Linked DNA regions of Homo sapiens. The protein of the gene in region 5 purifies or fractionates together with the protein of the main gene of each other region. This does not show direct contact. Each region holds a gene or a part of one and is shown on either strand. Other genes may lie near its edges. The genes, in order: PDXDC1, PCYOX1, STK26, ECPAS, B3GAT1 and KLHL36.

Evidence for each region.
Region 1: the proteins of B3GAT1 (region 5) and PDXDC1 purify together in Homo sapiens (affinity purification with mass spectrometry; one large-scale study listed by BioGRID and IntAct). This does not show direct contact.
Region 2: the proteins of B3GAT1 (region 5) and PCYOX1 purify together in Homo sapiens (affinity purification with mass spectrometry; one large-scale study listed by BioGRID and IntAct). This does not show direct contact.
Region 3: the proteins of B3GAT1 (region 5) and STK26 purify together in Homo sapiens (affinity purification with mass spectrometry; one large-scale study listed by BioGRID and IntAct). This does not show direct contact.
Region 4: the proteins of B3GAT1 (region 5) and ECPAS purify together in Homo sapiens (affinity purification with mass spectrometry; one large-scale study listed by BioGRID and IntAct). This does not show direct contact.
Region 6: the proteins of B3GAT1 (region 5) and KLHL36 purify together in Homo sapiens (affinity purification with mass spectrometry; one large-scale study listed by BioGRID and IntAct). This does not show direct contact.

What each region holds. Positions count from the first base shown.
Region 1 is NC_000016.10:15,036,429-15,038,832, reverse strand, and holds the end of PDXDC1 (pyridoxal-dependent decarboxylase domain-containing protein 1), read right to left. Parts: 3' UTR 803-2,404; coding exon of another isoform or gene 623-802; 3' UTR 501-622; downstream 1-500. Other genes in the region: NTAN1 (protein N-terminal asparagine amidohydrolase), read left to right, coding at 146-259, 623-802.
Region 2 is NC_000002.12:70,268,137-70,271,636, reverse strand, and holds part of PCYOX1 (prenylcysteine oxidase 1 precursor), read right to left. Parts: intron 1-3,500. UniProt on the Homo sapiens protein: Prenylcysteine oxidase that cleaves the thioether bond of prenyl-L-cysteines, such as farnesylcysteine and geranylgeranylcysteine. Only active against free prenylcysteines and not prenylcysteine residues within prenylated proteins or peptides.
Region 3 is NC_000023.11:132,057,802-132,061,301, reverse strand, and holds part of STK26 (serine/threonine-protein kinase 26), read right to left. Parts: intron 1-3,500. UniProt on the Homo sapiens protein: Serine/threonine-protein kinase that acts as a mediator of cell growth. Modulates apoptosis. In association with STK24 negatively regulates Golgi reorientation in polarized cell migration upon RHO activation.
Region 4 is NC_000009.12:111,414,884-111,418,383, forward strand, and holds part of ECPAS (proteasome adapter and scaffold protein ECM29), read right to left. Parts: intron 3,124-3,500; coding exon 3,000-3,123; intron 1,470-2,999; coding exon 1,389-1,469; intron 1-1,388. UniProt on the Homo sapiens protein: Adapter/scaffolding protein that binds to the 26S proteasome, motor proteins and other compartment specific proteins. May couple the proteasome to different compartments including endosome, endoplasmic reticulum and centrosome.
Region 5 is NC_000011.10:134,378,008-134,381,242, forward strand, and holds the end of B3GAT1 (galactosylgalactosylxylosylprotein 3-beta-glucuronosyltransferase 1), read right to left. Parts: exon of another isoform or gene 2,748-3,235; intron 2,741-2,747; 3' UTR 501-2,740; downstream 1-500. UniProt on the Homo sapiens protein: Involved in the biosynthesis of L2/HNK-1 carbohydrate epitope on glycoproteins. Can also play a role in glycosaminoglycan biosynthesis. Substrates include asialo-orosomucoid (ASOR), asialo-fetuin, and asialo-neural cell adhesion molecule.
Region 6 is NC_000016.10:84,655,011-84,658,510, reverse strand, and holds part of KLHL36 (kelch-like protein 36), read right to left. Parts: intron 1,641-3,500; coding exon 567-1,640; intron 1-566.

The DNA.
Region 1 (2,404 bases), on a different chromosome or scaffold from region 5:
TGGCAGCTTTTGTTATTTGAGACAGGTTTTAAGAAGCTTAGGCAGATAAATGCATGAAAGGACTACACTGGAGCTTGCGTTACTGGGAGGGTTTGAAAAGTGGGTGACATTCCTGAAATTCTATCCTTGACACGTTCTTTTTTAGATGATTAGCATTTATGATGCAGAGACAGAACAACTTCGTATAGGACCGTACTCCTGGACACCATTTCCACATGTGGATTTCTGGTTGCACCAAGATGACAAGCAAATACTAGAGGTGAGAGTTTACAGGCTGGGTAAGTCTTAAATCTCTGCACCCTGGTTTCCCCATCTGTAAGAAAAAAAGGGTTTAGACCAGGTCATAGCTGCTTTCCCTTTGGCGGGTAGTAACTTTTTGGATGCCATTGACAGACCCCATTTAACTTGTATATCAAATGGGGATATGTCAAGTCCTAGATGGAAATGTGTGTGGGTAAAGCAGTAAGCAATCAACTTTTTTCTTACTAATTCAGGCCACCTCATTTCTTAACGTATTTTATTATATATATTTGTGTCCAAGAACAAAGATACTTTGACATCTTTATCACAGCAGGGGACAGTAAGGTTGGCTTCTCTAATGCCCACCATCTTGTGTTTTCAGAATCTTTCCACTTCGCCTCTGGCTGAGCCACCCCACTTTGTTGAACATATTAGATCTACCTTGATGTTTTTAAAAAAACACCCATCTCCAGCTCACACACTGTTTTCTGGAAATAAAGCCCTACTCTACAAAAAAAATGAAGATGGCTTGTGGGAAAAGATCTCTTCTCCAGGAAGTTAAAAAACATGAATTACCAAAGAAAGCACCTTCTTGGCCTGACAGACCATTGGTGGGGCTGGCACGAATCCAGATCTGGATCCTACATCTGTTGGGTCTTAGGCCTCCTTCCCTCCTCAGTGTCTTTCAAATGACTTTCATCAAATGACTTTCAAAATAAAACCTTATTTTGGCAAAGGCATTTGTTGAGACTTATTTTTTGGTTTACTAAAAAATTGATGTCCAGTTTTTTTTTTGGTCGGTAATAACGGGCAGAGGAGAACCTACCTCTCACTGGTCTATCGGCAGCTATTTCAGGTACGTGGGTAAGTCTTTTGTAATAAGATTTATAAACTGAATTCACTGGTAACAATTTCAAGAACCTTTATTGAAACCAACATTCAAATAATATCTCAAGGGTGAAATGTTTCAGCAAAACCAATTTAACAATTCCAAATATATATAAAAACATGTAATTTTCTTGAAGGTGATAATTTACCCCTCCCCCATTTTATCTGCTATACTTCATTGCACCAAATAGGGAAGACTGTTTAATCATCTGCACCAAAAAAAACCCCCTGCATTTTGACAAGTGTAAATGTCAAAAATCCCATCAAATCAGAGTATAATTATAGGCTTAATATACTATAACTAAGGCTTCCAATACTACAGTCCAGAAACCCAGTGTGAATTTTCCCATTTTCAGGTCTCCCAAAAGCTTGACTGCTGGATTAAGAAGGCACAGGGGCCATTACTTACGACAAAGTGACGCAGTACTTCGGAAAAGTAGGAACGGGCAGTGCCAGCGAGCTTCTACTGACTTAAGCAGGGTGCCCGGCTGGATCAGCGTGAGAGAGTGCTCTGCTGGCTCCTGTTTCTGAGTTGGGCCCAGGCGAGCTGCCAGGGCAGTAGAAGCTTCAGTGGGAGACAGGTCAAAGGGGTACTTGTTTTCAGATTTTAACCAGGTGGGTGCTACGTAGCACACGGAAGAGCAAGCTCTTAAGGGTAGCATCTATCAGGTTTTCAGATACTAAACAGAAATGAGCACAGTCTGTACTTGTGTGCCAATTTTAAAAGCTTTGCCAGTATTTAAAAATATATGGTCAGGAGGAGACTTTACAGTTTCTCTTTACAAACGGTATATAATGGGAGAAATGGCCTTGTGGCAGAGGACAGTCCCAGACAGCAGCCTTGCCACAGCTCAAGTAGACACAGTCCTTACTAAGTCTCCACGAAGAGCAGTAGCTGGGGAGGGCTTCTGATGCTCTTATTTACAATCCCACAATCACTGCTCTCCTTCAAGTCTAGCAGTCCCACTGTATATTGCAACTTGATCGTACTAAAGACCGACAGCAAAGGATACAGCCAGTCTCGCCTCTGTGAAGTGTTGCAGAGAACCTGGAGAGTGCTAATGAAAAGCTGTTTTACCAAAAAGTTGCCACGGGCAACCTCATATACTTAGGCTTATGTTTAGAAAGAGCAAGGGTGCTACTGGTAGACACTTGAAATTCGAAGTGTTTTTTGTGAATAAAATGTGTTTATGGTAACTTAGGGAAAAGTCGTAGTAGGACAGCAAACGTGGTTCTACATGTACATGAAGTTAGACAAGCTGACTCCCCTCCTAGA
Region 2 (3,500 bases), on a different chromosome or scaffold from region 5:
TGTAATGACAAGATTACTGCGCAAGTGTGAATCCAAACAGTATAGCTTTTAAATTTTAAAGCATTTGGTAAATTATCGCTGAGTTTTTTTCTGTTGCCAATAGCAAACTGCTTTTCCATTAATGGAGAATTCACGCCTTTCAAGCATTTTAAATATGACAATATTTATAAATGTATGGTTTGGAGGAATCGTTTAAATTCTCTTTCCTAATTTTCTTTCTTTTGAAGATAGATTCTTTCAACAAGTAATTTGTAGTAATGACTGTGTTGACTTCAATTTTGGAGCGCAGTAGCTATGTTAAAGATGAACTATTTGGTCTCATTGAAGCCAACACAGAACTTGCTGCTGTGTTTTTTCTTCAGTGATAAATAAAATACTTACAGAAAAAAAAAAAAAAAAAAATTAGCCAGGCATGGTGAGGCATGCCTGTAGTCCCAGCTATTCAGGAAGCTGAGGCATGAGGATCACTTCAGCCCCGCTGGTTGAGGCTGCAGTGAGCTGTGATCACACCACTGCACTCCATCCAGCTTGGGCAACAGAGTGAGACCTTGTCTTAAAAAAAACAAAAACAAAAACAAAAAAATAATAATTTTTAAAAAAATATAACTGGGGCCAGGCACAGTGGCTCACGCCTGTAATCCCAGCACTTTGGGAGGCCAAGACAGGTGGATCACCTGAGGTCAGGAGTTCGAGACCAGCCTGACCAACATGGAGAAACCCTGTCTCTACTAAAAATACAAAATTAGCCGGGCGTAGTGGTGCAGTGGCACAGTGAGCCAAGGTGAGCCGAGGAGAGCCAAGATCGTGCCACTGCACTCCAGCCTGGGCAACAGAGACAGACTCCATCTCAAAAGAAAAAAAAAAGGAGAAAATGGTCTGAAAAGAAGACTAGAAATACATGGGGTTAGGAGGGTTGAATTCTAAATAAGACTGTCCAAAAACAAGAGTGGTCAGGAAAAGCCTCACTGAGAAGATGATATAGACCAAAGACCCGAAGGAGATGAGGATGCAAACCAGGCAAACACCTGGGGGAAAATATTTCCGGTAGAGGTAAAAGCAATGCAAAGGTCACATGACAGAAGCTTGCCTGGCACATTCAAGAAACAATGAAGCCAGAGCAGCTGAAGCAGAGTGATATGGGAGAACCGGGAGTGGTACAGCCAGAAATGTTACTGGGGAGAGGAAACTTCCAGAATGGCAGAGGAAGGACCTCTGGAAATCTGCTCCTCCATAAAAGCTATGAGAATACTGCCAAAAATGATCAACATTGACTCTTTCAGAGCTCTGCAGATAAACCAAAGCCTTTCCAAGTCCAAGGAGTATTTATTCAAGAAAAATGTCTGGCAGGCATGGTGGCTCACACCTGTAATCCCAGCACTCTGGGAAGCTGAGCCAGGCGGATCACTTGAGGTCAGGAGTTCAAGACCAGCCTGCCCAACATGGTGAAACACCATCTGTACCAAAAATATAAAAAATTAGCCAGGTGTGGTGGCACACGCCTGTAATCCCAGCTATTCAGGAGGCTGAGGCAGGAGAATCGCTTGAACCCAGGAGATGGAGGTTGCAGTGAGCCAAGATCGCACCATTGCACTCCAGCCTGGGCGACAAGAGGGAGACTCCGTCGAAAGAAAGAAAGAAAGAGAAAAAGAGAGAGAGAAAAAAAAATAAAAAATAAAACCAGCACCCTTCCAACTGCAATGTGAAACTAGCAAGCTAGAAGCCACTGGAGAGAACACAACGAGTTTGTAGCTCCCAAAAAGCACTATCCTCAGAGAACTGTCAATATTTGACCTATCTGGCAGCTCCGAAAAAGCTCTATCCTGAAGGCTTGTCTTTATTCGACCTGATTCAAAGTTCACTCTATGCAACAGCCCCATCCTGAGGGCACGTGTCCACGTGTCAAAAAAAAAATCTGTGGCAATTGTTTAACATCACAGATGCCGGAGGCTATGACATCAATAGAGACTACAAGAGGCTGACCAAAAAAACTTTTTAAAAAAGGCCGGGTGCAGTGGCTCACGCCTGTAATCCCAGCACATTGGGAGGCACAGGCTGGAGGATCACTTGAGGTTAGGAGTTCGAGACCAGCCTGGCCATCATGGCGAAAACCCATCTCTACTAAAAACACAAAAAATTAGCCAGGGTTGGTGGTGCATGCCTGTAGTCCCACCTACTCAGGAGGCTGAGGCACAAGAATTGCTTGAACCCGGGAGGCAGAGGTTGCAGTGAGCCGAGATAGCGCCACTGAACTCCAGCCTGGGCAACAGAGCGAGACTCTGTCTCAAAAAAAAAAAAAAAAAAATTAGCTGGGCATGGTAGTGCACATCTGTAGTCCCAGCCACTCAAGGGGCCTGAGGTTGGAGAATTGCTTGAGCCTGGGAGGCAGAGGTTGCTGTGAACATACTACACTCTAGCCTGGGCAACAGAGTAAAACATCATCTGAAAAAAAAAAAAAAACAGACACACAGATCCTTGAAACAAATAAGAAAACCCAGAAATAAACCTTCATGAATATGATCAAATGATCTTGACAGAACTGAAATACATAGTTCAACAATAATGGAGACTTCAATATCCCATTTTCAATAATGGACAGTTACTGAAAATGACAACAGTGTATTAGTTCACCAAGACTGCCATAACACAGTACCAAAGACTGGATGGCTTAAACAAAAAAAGTTTTATTTCTTATAGTTCTGTAGGCCAAAAGTCCAAGATCAAGGTGTGGATGCATTCGGTTTCTTCTGAGGCCTATTTCCTTGGCTTGCAGATGGCCACCTTCTTGCTGTGTCCTCACATGGTCTTTGTGTGTTTCTTCTGTGTCCCAATTTTTTTTTTTTTTTTTCTGAGACAGAGTTTCACGCTTGTTGCCCAGGCTGGAGTGCAATGGCTCACTGCAACCTCTGCCGCCCAGGTTCAAGTGATTCTCTTGCCTCAGCCTTCCTGAGTAGCTGGGATTACAAGCATGCACCACCACGCCCAGCTAATTTTTTGTATTTTTAGTAGAGAAGGGGTTTCACCATGTTGGTCAGGCTGGTCTCGAACTCCCAACCTCAGGTGATCTGCCCGCCTTGGCCTCCTTTCTGTGTCCTAATCTTAAGGACACCCATCAAATTGTTTTAGGGTCTACGCTAAAGACCTCATTTTAACTTAATCACATATTTAAAGGCCCTACATACATATGCAGTCACATTCTGAGTACTGGGTGGCTAGTGTTTCAACCTATGAATTTTGGGGAAAACAAATTTAAAAGTAAGGGATGAGAGCACAGAATCCTGTCATGTCTTCTCAGTCACAAAACAGATTTTGGCTATAAATCTCTATTAATGAAATAGCCACTGAAGGTTTCTGAGTTAGTGGAGTGATGTGATGAGCCTTAGATTTTAAAGAACTACTTTGGCTGCTAACCTGAGAACAAATGGTAGCAATATAACAGTAATGGCAGATGATTTAGGAGGTGTCTTGGTTTTCCACTGCTGCTATAACAAATTACCACAAAC
Region 3 (3,500 bases), on a different chromosome or scaffold from region 5:
TGGTTCTTACAATGGTGGATAGGTTAAAAATTGTTTCTTCTGCCACAAGTTTGTTTCTAACAAGTACTATACTCTATCATATGAATTCAGAGAGCTTCCCATTCACCTGACATTTAAAAGAAAAAGATCTTATAAAACATGCCTGCCTATTTTGCAGTTCTGCATGAATGAAAGCACCTGTTTTCCAAGTTAAAAACAATGTGTGCCTTTTTGTTTGTACTAATTCAAAACAGAAACTTGCCAACTGTCTGTCAGTAAAACGTGTTCATAGAAAGCTTGAAATGTGACTTTACAAAGTAGTATATACCATTAAGCATTAAAATTACAACTACTCAATTTCTAGATCTGAAAATAAGGAATCCTTATTTGTTCTGGAAATCAGTGGTGGTGAGGGCTGCACAACACGCCTGTAATCCTGGTATTTTGGGAGGCCGAGGTGGGAGGATCGCTTGAGTCCAGGAGTCTGAGAGCAGTCTAGGCAACATAGGGAGTCCTCATCTCTACAAAAAGTGCAAAAAAGTAGCCAGGTGTGGTGGCATATGCCTGTAGTCCCAGCTACTCGGGAGGCTGAGGTGGGAGGATCAATTGAACCTGGGAGGTGGAGGCTGCAGTGGGCCAAGACTGCGCCACTGTACTCCAGCTCGGGAGACAGAGTGAGACCCTGTCACAAAAAAAAAGCAAAACAAAAAAACAAAACAAAAAAAAAACCACCCAAAAAACAAACAAACAAAAAAAACACAAAATCAATGTGAATGTAGCCAATGCCAGAGAGCTGTACACTTAAAATGGCAAATTTAGTGTTAAGTATATTTTGCCTGATTAAAAAAAACATACAGCACATAAGACTTTATAAAACTGGAAGTGACAGTAGAGATCATCTTGCCAAGAATATGGCTAGAAAATTTACCACTTCTGAGTCATTTTCCTCCAGCTTGGAATGCTGTGTCCCTACCCCACTTGCACCTTCCAACCCCTATCAAAATCATTCTCAAGACTTAGTTCAAATGCTACCTCCCTAGTTTGAGGGTTATTGCACTTGATGTACTCACAGATAAGCAGGCTATTAATATGAAGCAAGTTATAAACACATATCTGGGGCTGAGCAGAGAGGATGAAACCAGAGACATCAGTTTAGAAGTTGTCAGACGAAAGTAGATGAGATTAACCACAATATGCAAAAGAAGAGGAATACACATAGTAGGCATTAATAAATAAGCGTCTGTTGAATTGAATCTAACATGGGGCTTCTTAGAGGTGTATTATATTAAGTTTAAAGCTATTCCTATTTTGAGAAAAGAACATTTTAAGAAGGAACAAACTTTCTAGCCTCCATTTTCTTCAAGTTTTATAAGAGAACTCCAAAACAAATGTTAACAATAAAAGAATATTCCAGAGGCATTGAGCATACATAAACTGGCTGTAAGCACATACAGTTTCAGTGAAAAATAAGGAGAAGGCCACAAAGCCGTACAGATGATTCTGAAATATTTTACTTCATTCAATTCTTTTTTTTTTCATAAATACTGGTGATGGTGGGTGGGAGGCAATATTTCCTTAACATACACAGAAATCTAAAGGCAATTTTCAGCAGCAAATAAAGGCATGATTCAAATTCTATTCAATGCCTGAGTGTCATTTTAAGATTTACACTGAACTAGAAAAATATTTAAAGATTATAAAAGATTATTCCAATATTATGAGATCAGAAGGGAAGGGTTTGCTTATTTTAGCACTCTTCATAAAGACTAACTTTGTCAAGAAAATCTGCCCAGTGAACTAAAATTAAAGGAAAACACTGTGGTCATACTGATGTGTTTGTCTGGTTTTTAACTCTTGTTTTCAAAAATGAAGTTATACAGTGAGCTTAGTCAAAATGAATACCTAGTACATTTTTTGCATGTCTCAAGGAAATCACTACAACTGCATACAGTTTCAAAGAACATATAATTTTCTCTCAAATGTAATAAACTTTTCCTCCAGCTTACAGTGAGGTCTTAGTTATGGATGACATCCTGTGTAAGAACAACCCATTTCCCAGTTTGCTCAATTAACTTGACTCACAAAATCCTCCATGTCACCTGAAATGGAACAATGGGCCACAATAAGTATGTAAGTTGACTGATAACACAGTTCCCTGATGGCACAAAGAGGATGTGGCCTTGACTTATGTTGACTACATGAAACAGAATCCTGTTATATTTGACGTGATTTTAGTTTAGAAAAAAATACAAACCCACACAGTCATACTATGTTGTAATATAAATGGAAAATAAATGAGTTGGTCAATTTAAGAAAGTGATTTAAATACATGGTATGAAAACGTTGTAAGATTATAGAATATTTCTTTCTCTGTGTGTATATACATATGTCTCAAGACATATGTATATACACACAGATTTATTTACTTTAAATAGATTCAGAACACAAATAATCAACATAAGCCAGCTGCACATTTCTACAATTTTATCATGAAGCAACATGTTCTTCAAAGTAGTGTTTTATATCATAGAGTTTAGTTAATGATGGGTGAAGGAGATAAAAATAATTTGATTTAATCCCTTAAGAAGCTATCTTGGACGATGGTTTTGTAGCACTGGCTGGTCTGAGTACACTTTACAATCAAAATTTGGGACAAACAAAAAACTAGTTTTTAATTATTTAAAGATTAAGTAAATACTGGGTGACTAGTACATGTATACTACTGTGCAACTTAAAAAACACTCTATATGAAATCTTAGGAAAAGAAGATAGAGCTGTCACTCATTTTCCATGGGAGTATTGAATATGAATAAATAAGCAACCAATAAAATTGTCAAACCATATCAGTACCAATTTTCAATATATTATGGAATAGCCATTTTAAATAGGGCGTATTTAATATTTTAGGTCAGCAACCAAAAATAGTGTTTTTGTCACAGGTGCCTAAAAGTAGCAAGGATTCAGTTTTGCCCTAGAGTGAGTCTGGAAATACCGGGATTCAGTCCAGAAAGAGTAAACCAGAATGAGCAAATGATACACACACAGACACACACACACACACACACACATACACACACACGCACACACACACATGTACCACCAAGGAATTGTATGGGAATTAGGAGGAGAACCTAAAACTACTGAGACTGCGTAATCACTCATGAGATCTCTAAAAAAGAATATGATGGGCTGAATTAGCTTTTTAGGAACAAATATGACAGCAAAATTATCACACAAAGGAGCAAATAATTATGTATGTAGTAAAATACAGTAATAGCTAACACTTAGATGTAAATGCTGAAATTGGATAGAAATTACTAGCATTATCACCTCCTTTTGGAGGCCTTTTATTCATGCCACTCCTGAAAAGGACAGAAGTGACTACTTACTAATTTGTGCATCATCTATACCTTGTACATACTTTAACCATAAAATTGGCATCATTTCAGTGCAAAACTGGACTGTGAGTGCCTTGACAGCAGTAGTGAGTTTGTTCACTTTTATATCTTCAGCACCTAATA
Region 4 (3,500 bases), on a different chromosome or scaffold from region 5:
TCAGAAATTGGAGCTGGAGGCTGTTATCCTTAGCAAACTAACGCAGGAACAGAAAATCAAATACCACATGTTCTCACTTATAAGTGGGAGTTAGATGATAAGAACTTCTGAACGCAAAGAAGCAAACAACAGACACTGGGGTATACTTGAGGAGAGAGGGTGGGAGGAGGGAGAGGAGCAGAAAAGATAACTATGGGGTATTGGGCTTAATATCTGGGTAATGAAATAGTATATACAACAAACCCCCATGACACATATTTACCTATATAACAAACCTTCACATGTACCCTCGAACCTAAAATAAAAGTTAAAAATTATAATAAAAATCATTATTTTTTAAAAGCCGTGTGTGTGTGTGTGTGTGTGTGTGAGAGAGAGAGAAAGACAGAGAGAGAGGAAAGAAATCTGAAGTAAATGGCCTATTACTCCTGCAGAATTCCAGTTGTGTTTACTCCATTGACACAAGAATCTGAGAAAATGGGTTCAATTCATCTACAGAAAAATAGATATAACACCATAAAAACCTCTGATATAGACCAGACACAGTGGCTCACGCCTGTAATCCCAACACTTTGGGAGGCTGAGGCAGGAGGACTGCTTTAGCTCAGGAGTTCAAGACCAGCCTGGGAAACATGGTGAAACCCATCTCTACCAAAAAGATAACAGAATTAGCCAGGGGTGGTGGTGCACGCCTGTAGTCATGGCTACTCAGGAGACTGGGACGGAGGTTCACTTGAGCCCAGGAGGCAAGGTTGCAATGAACCGAGATCACGCCATTCACTGTACTCCAGCACGGGCAACAGAGTGAGACTCCTTCTCAAAAAAAAAAAAAACCAAACAAACAAAAAAAACAACCCTTACATAAACAGGCTGCCAAGGAGTCCATCCTCTGGAAGCTTTTTCATTGATCGTTAAAATAGGATAGGCAGCAAATTCACTGTGAATATTCTTAATCCGAACAAGATCACCTCTTGTAATTTACCTAGAGCAAGTCAATAATCTAAAAAACAGAATTTCCCTTAATAAGTGTGATCAATTTAATCCTCTCCAACCTTCAAAACTAAATAACCCTAACAACCTCAACAACAGGTTGGCTTTAAAACCCAAATCTAACTTGCTGCAAAATCCCAATAGTAATCACTACAGAACATCCAGTTTTTTCACAAAAAGAATCTCACTGAGATAAATATATTTACATACTTCACTATGAATTAAAATAATACCAATTTCCCAATACTTTTTTTTTAAATAAACAACCCGATGAAGAACAATGACACCACAATATGGGTTTACCTAAAACACAACAAAATGACAGACCCCTCTTTGGGTGTGGTGTGATCTTTTTAGAACACTTACAAAAAGTAAATAGAAATATATGAAAGTTCTACCTCTCCAAAGGCTGCTGGGTTAAATGGAAGGACAGTGGTCCCGGTCATGTACTTGACTGGAGTTTTCATTCGATGAGAAGCCTAAGTTTAAAAAGTCCAAAACAGACACAATTACTGAAAAATGAAGCATACCTGCCCTTCCTCAACTCAAAAACAACTGTGTTTCTAGCTACATGTCCTAAGTTTGCTTCTTTTTCTGATCAAACATTTTCCACTTTCCTATTAACCATGCTGATCGTGCATGTCCCTCACACACTAAAAGACAAGTGTATTGCCCTTTTTCCATGTTTGTTCTGGTTTGTTTAAAAATAATAAACCTATTCCAGACATCTACTAATATGGTCATCTCAGGTCACTGCATGCCAGTTATTTTCATTAATAATCAAAGTAGGAGGAAACTACAAGCAGAGAATCTTCTGACCACAAATAGACTGTGCTGCTATGTGGAAAACAGAATCATGGCCGCTGCATACTGACCTTCAACTCCCTTAAGGTGCCTACCTAGCAAAGAGCTAGGATCACCAGTGGAGGTAAAAGGTAGGAAGGTGTCCTCCGGCAAAGTGGGACAGAGTCAAGGCCTGGAGGGGGTGGATGGTCATTACTGCCAATATCCTGGATCTACTAGCAGAAAACACTGTGCAAAAGCAAAAACTTACAAAAGCAGATGGGATGCTCTCTTATGAACACGGTGGGAAGAACATGAACTGTTCCCTGAAGCATCCTTAAACTTACACTACCCTAAAGCGTGCCCTTAAAAATAAAAAGGAGAACCAGCGTGGGCAATATAGCAAAACTCTGTCTCTACAAAAAATAAAAAAATTAGCCAGGCACGGTGGTGCACGCCTGTAGTCCCAGCTATCGGGAGGCTGAGGAGGGTGGATCACTTGAGTCTGGGACGTGGAGGTTTTAGTGAACTGAGACCACACCACTGCACTCTAGCCTGGGTGACCAGAGCAAGACCCTGTCTCAAAAAAAAATAAAAAAATTTTAAAAAAAGGAGATGTATTTTTAAGCATGTCATATTAAGGGAAAAAATATTTAACACAGCCAAAATGTTGCCAAGCATGAAAGGAATTATAAGTAATTCAAGTTTAGGCAAAACAGATCAATTACAGGTGAGGATTACAATTTTTTTTCCTCACTTTGTATCTTCTTCTTATTGTAAGTATTAATGCTAGAAACTTTATGAGTCAGCTGGGCATGGTGGTTCATGCCTGTAAACCTAGCACTTTGGGAGGCCAAGGCAGGTGGATCACCTGAGGTCAGGAGTTCAAGACCAGCCTGGCCAACATGGTGAAACACTGTTTCTACTAAAAATACAAAAAATTAACCGGGCTTGGTGGCAGGCGCCTATAATCCCAGCTATTCAGGAGCTGGGGCAGGAGAATCACTTGAACCCAGGTAGTGGAGTTTGCAGTGAGCCAAGACCGTGCCATTGCACTCCAGCCTGGGCAACAAGAGCGAAGCTCCATCTCAAAAAAAAAAAAGAAAAGAAAAGAAAAAGAAATTTTATGAGTCAACATCTAGTGATTACATTTTTCACTTTAAAGATGTTTTTATTTTCATCATCCATTATGATTTAGACTAATTACCTTAAGTTGCATGCCATACCTTTTCTTGGATGTAATAAACCATTTCTGGGAAGGAAGGCATCTGCTCAGAAGTACTTTCTTTTCTGTTTCTACCTGGAAGACACCTTAATACGCGTTGTGCTTCTCCATGAACTTCTTCACGTCTTTCAGAAAAAGACAAATAAGAATAAAAAATAAATGTCACCAATGGGAAATGATCATTTGAAGAATAAGAACAGCAATTTTATTTGGCAGCTAGAGTTCTCAGAAAATGTCTTAAATACATTCTTGGCTATCTAAGCAGAGTCAACATAACACATTATAAGAAATCACTTCTTTTCAGAAATTGCATGAGGTCCGGGGACTCATCTGGCTTACATCTTTGAATTTGACTCACATTAAAAAACAAGATAGGGTACTTTAAGTAAATTATTATGTAAATATCTATGTGTATGCTTTACCTCGTAGAGTTAAACCATAAACAACTATAATACATATTTTAGAAGTCAGTGACTATCCAGTGGTCTACACACTCCACCCA
Region 5 (3,235 bases):
TGGGGACTCCCTTCTCCCACGCCCACCACATCCCTCACTGCTGTTGCCCCCAGCAGCCCCCGCCCCGTCAGTTGAGCCCGATGGCCTTCCTGCTGATCTGTAAGCAGGCTGAGCAACGCTTGTTCCGCCTGGTGGAGAGTTCGTTCTTCTTGGGCCCGGGGAGCTGCATGTCAGGGTGTTGCTGCTTCGCTCAAGGGTCACTTATCACGGAGGCCTCTGTGGTCACCCTACAGAGCACTGACCCTCTCCACTGCTACCTCTGTCTCCCCGACTCACCCTCATCCTCCATACAACAGATTGCATCTGAAATAATATGCATTCGTTATTGCCTGTCTCCTCTCGTCAGTGGGTCAGTTCTTTGAAAATGAGAGCCTTGTTTTCTCACTGCTGTGTGTCGGCTCCTAGAATGATGCCTGTTCATAACAGGCACCTGATACATACTTGTTGGGTAGCTAAATTAATAAATGAGAACAAAATAAGGCAGGGCTGAAGAGGATTAGGACTGTTAAAAACTGTATTTGACTTTTAATTTTGAAAGCAAATTAAATACAGTTAAATTAAAACAGACCAGATGCAGCTGCCTGGGTGCCACCCTCACCCCAGCCTCTGTTCTTAGAACTCCTAGCCCCTGGCCTCACTCCTGTGTGGTGGGGCTTGCCAGCGAGGGAGCAGGGAACAGACTGGGTTTGGAAAACAGTGGTCATCATGGACCCATTTCTGATTTATAACAAACTCATTCCCAATAAAGATGAAGGCTGCAGTCCACCAGGGTTATAATTATAAATAAATATACATGCAGCTAAAAGAGGATATTAGGTGAAAACAACTGACCTAGCATCTGCCCAAAGAAGTCCCCATTTTGTTGTTCATTATCAAAGTCCTGAAAATGAACCCTAGGTTTTTGGCTAAGAAGGTGGCCTCAGACCAGCCAAGCTGACCTTGGCACTTGGCTGGCTTCTGTGAGGCAGTAGAGTGCCCACACATAAGCTCACCACCTGTGCCCACCTCCTCCCTTCTCTCCCATGCCACCCCACTTGCTTCCAAGGGCTTGGTTTCCAAAGTGACATCCAGGGTGTAAGAGGTTGGGGAAAACGTCCTGCAAGGTGGCTCAGGGATCTGATTCCATCAGATGGTCTCATGAATACTGTGGGAGATTAAATCCATCTCAAAATAGGCAACCAATGCTATATTCTGAATGTTAGGTCTCTGGACTGAGTCCCACCCACCCACCCACTCAGGAGTGGGTTCTGAATGGCCCTCAGACCTCTCCTGGTGAGTCTTAATGGGGTGGGAGGCTGTTAGTTAAAAAATAAACACCTCTTCAGTAGGCTGGGGCCCTTTCCTTTTCCTCCACTTGGGGGGAAAATTGTGCTTCCAACTTGCAGGAGAATGAGCCGGATCACCACTAGAGAGCCCGGCTGGGCCAGGGGGTCAGAGCCCTTTCCAGTGGGCCCCAGAGGCCTGGGGAGGGCAGGAGTTTGAGGCACACTGTTCTTTCTCCAGGATGGAAAGTGGACAGCTGGACATGAGGTGGGCTAGCTCTGCATGCTCCTGACTTAGGGAGAAATAACATTTTCTTTCCCTTTTTTGTGTTTAGAATAATTTCCAAAGCAGTGTGCTCAGGCCTCCCTCCTGCTCAGTGTCCCAGCAGCCCCTGCCCCCTCTTTCCCAGCCCCTCTGCTACTCCAGAGTCCCTCCTCCTCAGACCAGGGGCAGGAGGGAGTTAGGGAATGGCCTTGGCCTCCCTCCTCTTTCCAGGCTGCAGGAGGTCCCACCTTGCCCACCACCCACCGCCTTGCCCACTGCCCACCATGGGCTCACTCCACCCTGAGGTCTGTGGCTCTGAAGAGCTGCAGGAAAAGGCGCTTTCCCTCCCCAGTCCAGTCCAGGCGAGGGGCCTAGCAGCCGAGGTGGGCGGTGGGGAGGCAGTGTGTGGACAGTGGGGCCGTGGGGTTCTTAGTCCAGGTCAGGCAGTGACCTGTGCTGGCTCTAGAGCCTACCCCTTTGCCACTGCTGGAGGAGAAGGGGTAAAGGAAGAGGGGCCGGAGGGGGGGACTCTGCTCCCGCCACAGCCTGAGGTACAGGGGGTGCCTATTAGGCCCAGGCTCCCCCCATGCAGGGCTGGGTGCCTGTTGGGATCCAAGACAGCCTTATGCTCTGTAAACGTGAACCAGAGGAGAGCCACAGAGGTATGTCTGATTTGGGGGCAGCTCTCGGGAAGAGCAGGGGCCCAGGAGAGGAGCAGAGCGCTCGTGATGCCCGTGGGCTGCTCTCTGGTCTTCAGAATTCCCTGGCTGGGTGTCCTGTGTGGTCGTGCTGAGCCCAGGGACAGGGAGCCAGGGAGGGCCATGCTCCACTTGACTGCGGGGTCTTCTTATCTCCCTCCCGCCCTGCATCACTGCAGGGCCAGTGTGGGCGCCCACTGCACCTGCTCCTGCAGCCCCGTCAGTGCGGGGAGCTCTGGGGAGGTGCGCTGGAGCACCAGCTTGGCTGGTGCTGGACACCCCACCCTGGCCATCAGGTCTCTCGGGCCCTGGTCACGCTGGATGGAGAGAACAACAGGTCTGGGATTTCTGTGCTTAAATTCTCTGTCCTTTGTTCTGGCATCAGGCTGGGCTCTCTCAGAAGCCCCCAGAATAGAAAGGAGGGTGATGGTGATTCCTTAGGAGTCGGCCTTGGAGGGACCATCAGCCGTGGGGAGAGGATGGAAGGCCAAGAACAGGGTCTGAGGAGGAGGCTCCTGTGAGGGGAGAGGAGGAATGAGTGAGGTGTCGGCTGAGGGTGGGGCCGGGGAGGGAATGGCCAGGCAGGGCCACCAGGACCTCTGCAAAGCCCAGGCCCCCAGGTCCTGTGGGGGCCTTTCTGAGGGGCAGGTGGGGAAGGTGCTTCCAGTGAGGGCAGTGAGGGCAGGAGGCAGAAGTGAGGCTCGGTACAGATGCATTCTAAGTGGCGCTGGCCAAGGTGACTGAGTGACACCCTGTGGTCCTCTGCGGGCAAACACAATACAGAAGCTATTGCTTAGCTCCAGGGCAAGAGGACAAATGTCTGTCTCAGGCCTCAACCTCTGTTTGGCATAACCTAGAGTAGGGAGTCAGGAGTACCAGCTGCTTTTAAGAGACAGGATAAGATCACAGAAAAGCCCCTGAAAATGCCTGGCTTTGCCAACCACCCAGCACAATTCACTCGTGCCAGTGTGTCACCTTGGAACATTCATTTAGCTTCTCTCAACATCATT
Region 6 (3,500 bases), on a different chromosome or scaffold from region 5:
CAGGACACAATACATGCCCAAGGGCCAGGCGTGAGCACTAGTGGTCTCCTTAAACTATCTCCCAAAATGCTTCCAGAGGAGCCCCACAGAGACTCCAGGACCTGGGGATGTTGAACCATGGATCAAACATCTAGACCCATGCTACTGTCCAATAGGGTAGCCACGCCTCGTGCGGCCACATACACTTACACGTCAATCGGTTAAAGTGAAATAAAATTGAAAATTGACTTCTTCAGTCGCACTGGCCACATTTCAAGTGCTCAGTCGCCACATGCGGCTGTGGCTACCGTATCGGGAAGTACAGACAGACCCTTCCATCTGCACAGAAAGCCCCGCCAGGCAGTGCTGCTCTGAACGATGACGGACCCCTCGAAGGGGTGGGTCGGCTCTCCCTCTCCCTGTCCAGGATGTAGGCCCCGGGGTATTCTGCTCGTCACTTTATCATCACACCTCATTCAGAAGCAGGATAGTTGTCAAGGCCCCAGAGAGGTAAGGAAAGTCAAGGCTAGGTTAAGGAAACCGAGAGAGTCCTCAAGAGAAAAGAAATAATCTGGCTTTAATCTCACCTTGATCCACTGTTTACAGCGGGGGTCATACCTATAAAGAAGATTGGAGGCCGCATCCCCTCCGTTGTCCCGTGAGAAGCTGCCGCCGGCGATGAAGATGAAGCCCCCCAGCACCGCGACACAGTGGTGGCTCCGCCGGGCGGGCAGCGGCGTCTCTTTGACCCACTGCTCGCTCTTGGCGTCCAGGTAGCAGGTGTCGTCACTGAGCTCCAGACACCGCTCGGAGACCTCGCCGCCCACAAACAGCAGGCGCTCCTGGTTGGTGCGCAGCGCCGTGCGCTTGGTCTGCATGACGGGCTGGGCCGCCAGGTTGTTGTGGTAGCGCACGGCCTCCTCGATGAAGCCCTCGCAGTTGGCCTCCTTGGGCAGCAGCGAGCACACGGCCGGCTTGACGCGGTGCAGCAGGTCGTTCTTGGGGATGAGCGGGAAGTGGATGTTCTCCAGCACCTGGCGGGCGTGGGCCTCGCGCTCGGGCTGCTGCGTCAGCCACTGCAGGGCGGCCTGCAGGAGGTCGTGCTCACACTCCCGCTGCACCTCGCTGCTGCTCAGGTAGACACACAGCTTCTGCATGGAGACGTTCTGCAGGAAGTCGGGCGTAAAGGACAGCGTGCCGAAGTGGTTCAGGATGAAGCCATCGATGAAGGCATCAAGCCGCTTGAGGCTGTAGATGGAGGCCAGCTCCTGCAGGTACAGGTAGTTGTCCTCGCTCACCTCCTGCTCCAGGTACTCACAGCAGAAGTCTACCACCGTCCAGATCTGCAGCAGGTGAGCCGTCTCCAGGACGTAGTCAATGTTGCCGCCATCCAGCACCAGCTCCCCGCCGTACAGGAAGTCCACCACGGCCTTGAGCCCAATGTAGGAGGCGCCGATCAGCTCCACCTCCTTCTGGAAAGCTTCCCGCATGCCGATGGTGAACATGGAGTTGAAGTAGTCGCTGCACACGGCCAGCAGGTTGCGATGGGCTGGCACACGCTGCTCATCGGCCACCAGGACGACGTCGCAGAAGAGCCCGCGGAGACGCTGCTCGTTCAGCCGCTGCAGCACCGTGCTTGAGTGGTCGGCCCAGCGGTATACCTGGACAGAGAAGACACATTAGAAACGGCGCAGCAGCCTGCTCGGCCCTGGTCCAACCCAGTGGGTCCTGACCAGCATTTTCAACAAAATGAAACTGAAGAAAACAGGAAATAAAATGCTGCATCAGAGGGCACTGCAGGAAGTACAGGTGTTTCTGAGTATGCCTGTGTATCGTGGTTTTTTTTTTCCTTCTCTTATTAATATAACTTCTTTCTTTCTTTCTTTCTTTTTTTTTTTTTGACACAGAGCCTTGCTCTGTCGCCCAGGCTGGAGTGCAGTGGCACAACCTCAGCTCACTGCAACCTCTGCCTCCCGGGTTCAAGTGATTCTCCTGCCTCAGCCTCCTGAGTAGCTGGGACGACAGCCCGGCTACTGGAGTTTGAGAGCAGCCTGGCCAACATGGTGAAACCCTGTCTCTACTAAAAATACAAAATTTAGCCAGGCATGGTGGCGTGTGCCTGTAATCCTAGCTACTCAGGAGGCTGAGGCAGGAGAATTGCTTGAACCCAGGAGATGGAGGTTGCAGTGAGCCAAGAGCACACCACTACACTCCAGCCTGGGAGACAGAGCAAGAACTCCGTCTCAAAAAACAAAAAACAAACAAACAAAACAAAACAAACAAGAAAAAACAAAAAACAAACCAAAAAAACCCAAAACCAAACAACACAACAATTCAAGCCAGGCATGGTGGCTCATGCCTGTAATCTCAATGCTTTGTGAGACTGAGACGGGAGAATCACTTGAGGCCAGGAAGTTCGAGACCAACCTGGGCAACATAGCGAGATTCCTGTCTTAACAAAATATTTAAAAATTAGGTGGGCGTGGTGGCATTCGCCTGTAGTCCCAGCTGCTCAGGAGGCTGAGGCAGGAGGATCGCTCAAGCCCAGGAGCTTGAGGCTGCAGTGAGCCATGATTGTGCCACTGCACTCCAGCCTGGACGACAAAAAGAAACCCTGTCTCTAAATAAATAAATAAATGAATTCAACATAGGGAGAAACAGGTAACTGAAAACTATCACATAGATAGCTGGTCTATTCCAGGGTGACTGAGGTGAAGAACTGGCTGGGCACTAGCCTGAAGAGGGGAAATGTGGTTGGAGGAAGAAAACTGACCGAGGGCTATTAGGTATTAGCAGCTATGTGGTTCGACTTTTTTTTTTTTTTTTTTGAGACAGGGTCTCACTCTGTTGCCCAGGCTGGAGTGCAGTGGCACAATCTCGGCTCACTGCACCCTTGACCTCCTGGGCTCAAGTGATTCTCCCACCTCAGCCTCCTGAGTAGCTGGGACTACGGGTGTGTGCCACCATGCCTGGCTAATTTTAAAATTTTTTTGTAGAGACGAGGTCTCACTATGTCGCCCTTGACCTCCTGGGCTCAAGTGATTCTTCCGCCTTAGCCTCCTGAGTAACTGGGACTACAGGCACACGCTACCACGCCTGTCTGATTTTTATAATTTGCAGGGACAACGTCTCCCTAAACTGCCCAGGCTCTGAATTCTTAAAAGTTGCTTCTTAACATGTGTCCTACAGCAGTGGGTTTTATTTTTTTCTTCCCTTTCAAATCTTCTTTTTGTTGCCATACATGCGTTTGTCATTGAGACACTTTATTTCCCTGTGGTATTTCCACATCCAGTCAATTCCAACAGCAACTTCTCTGTCCATGCTACAGGAGCAGGCCACATTCTCACAGCCTGTGGAGGATGCCAGACAGATCCGACTTGGCATTTCCTTCTGAGTTCAGAGGACGGGCTCTCCCGCTCTTCCATTCCAGGCTGGCTTTTCAGTTCACAGGTCACACACGTGGAGATCTCTATTTATCCTGGTTACCCACAAAGAGAGCCAGGCTGGCCTACACCGGGCTT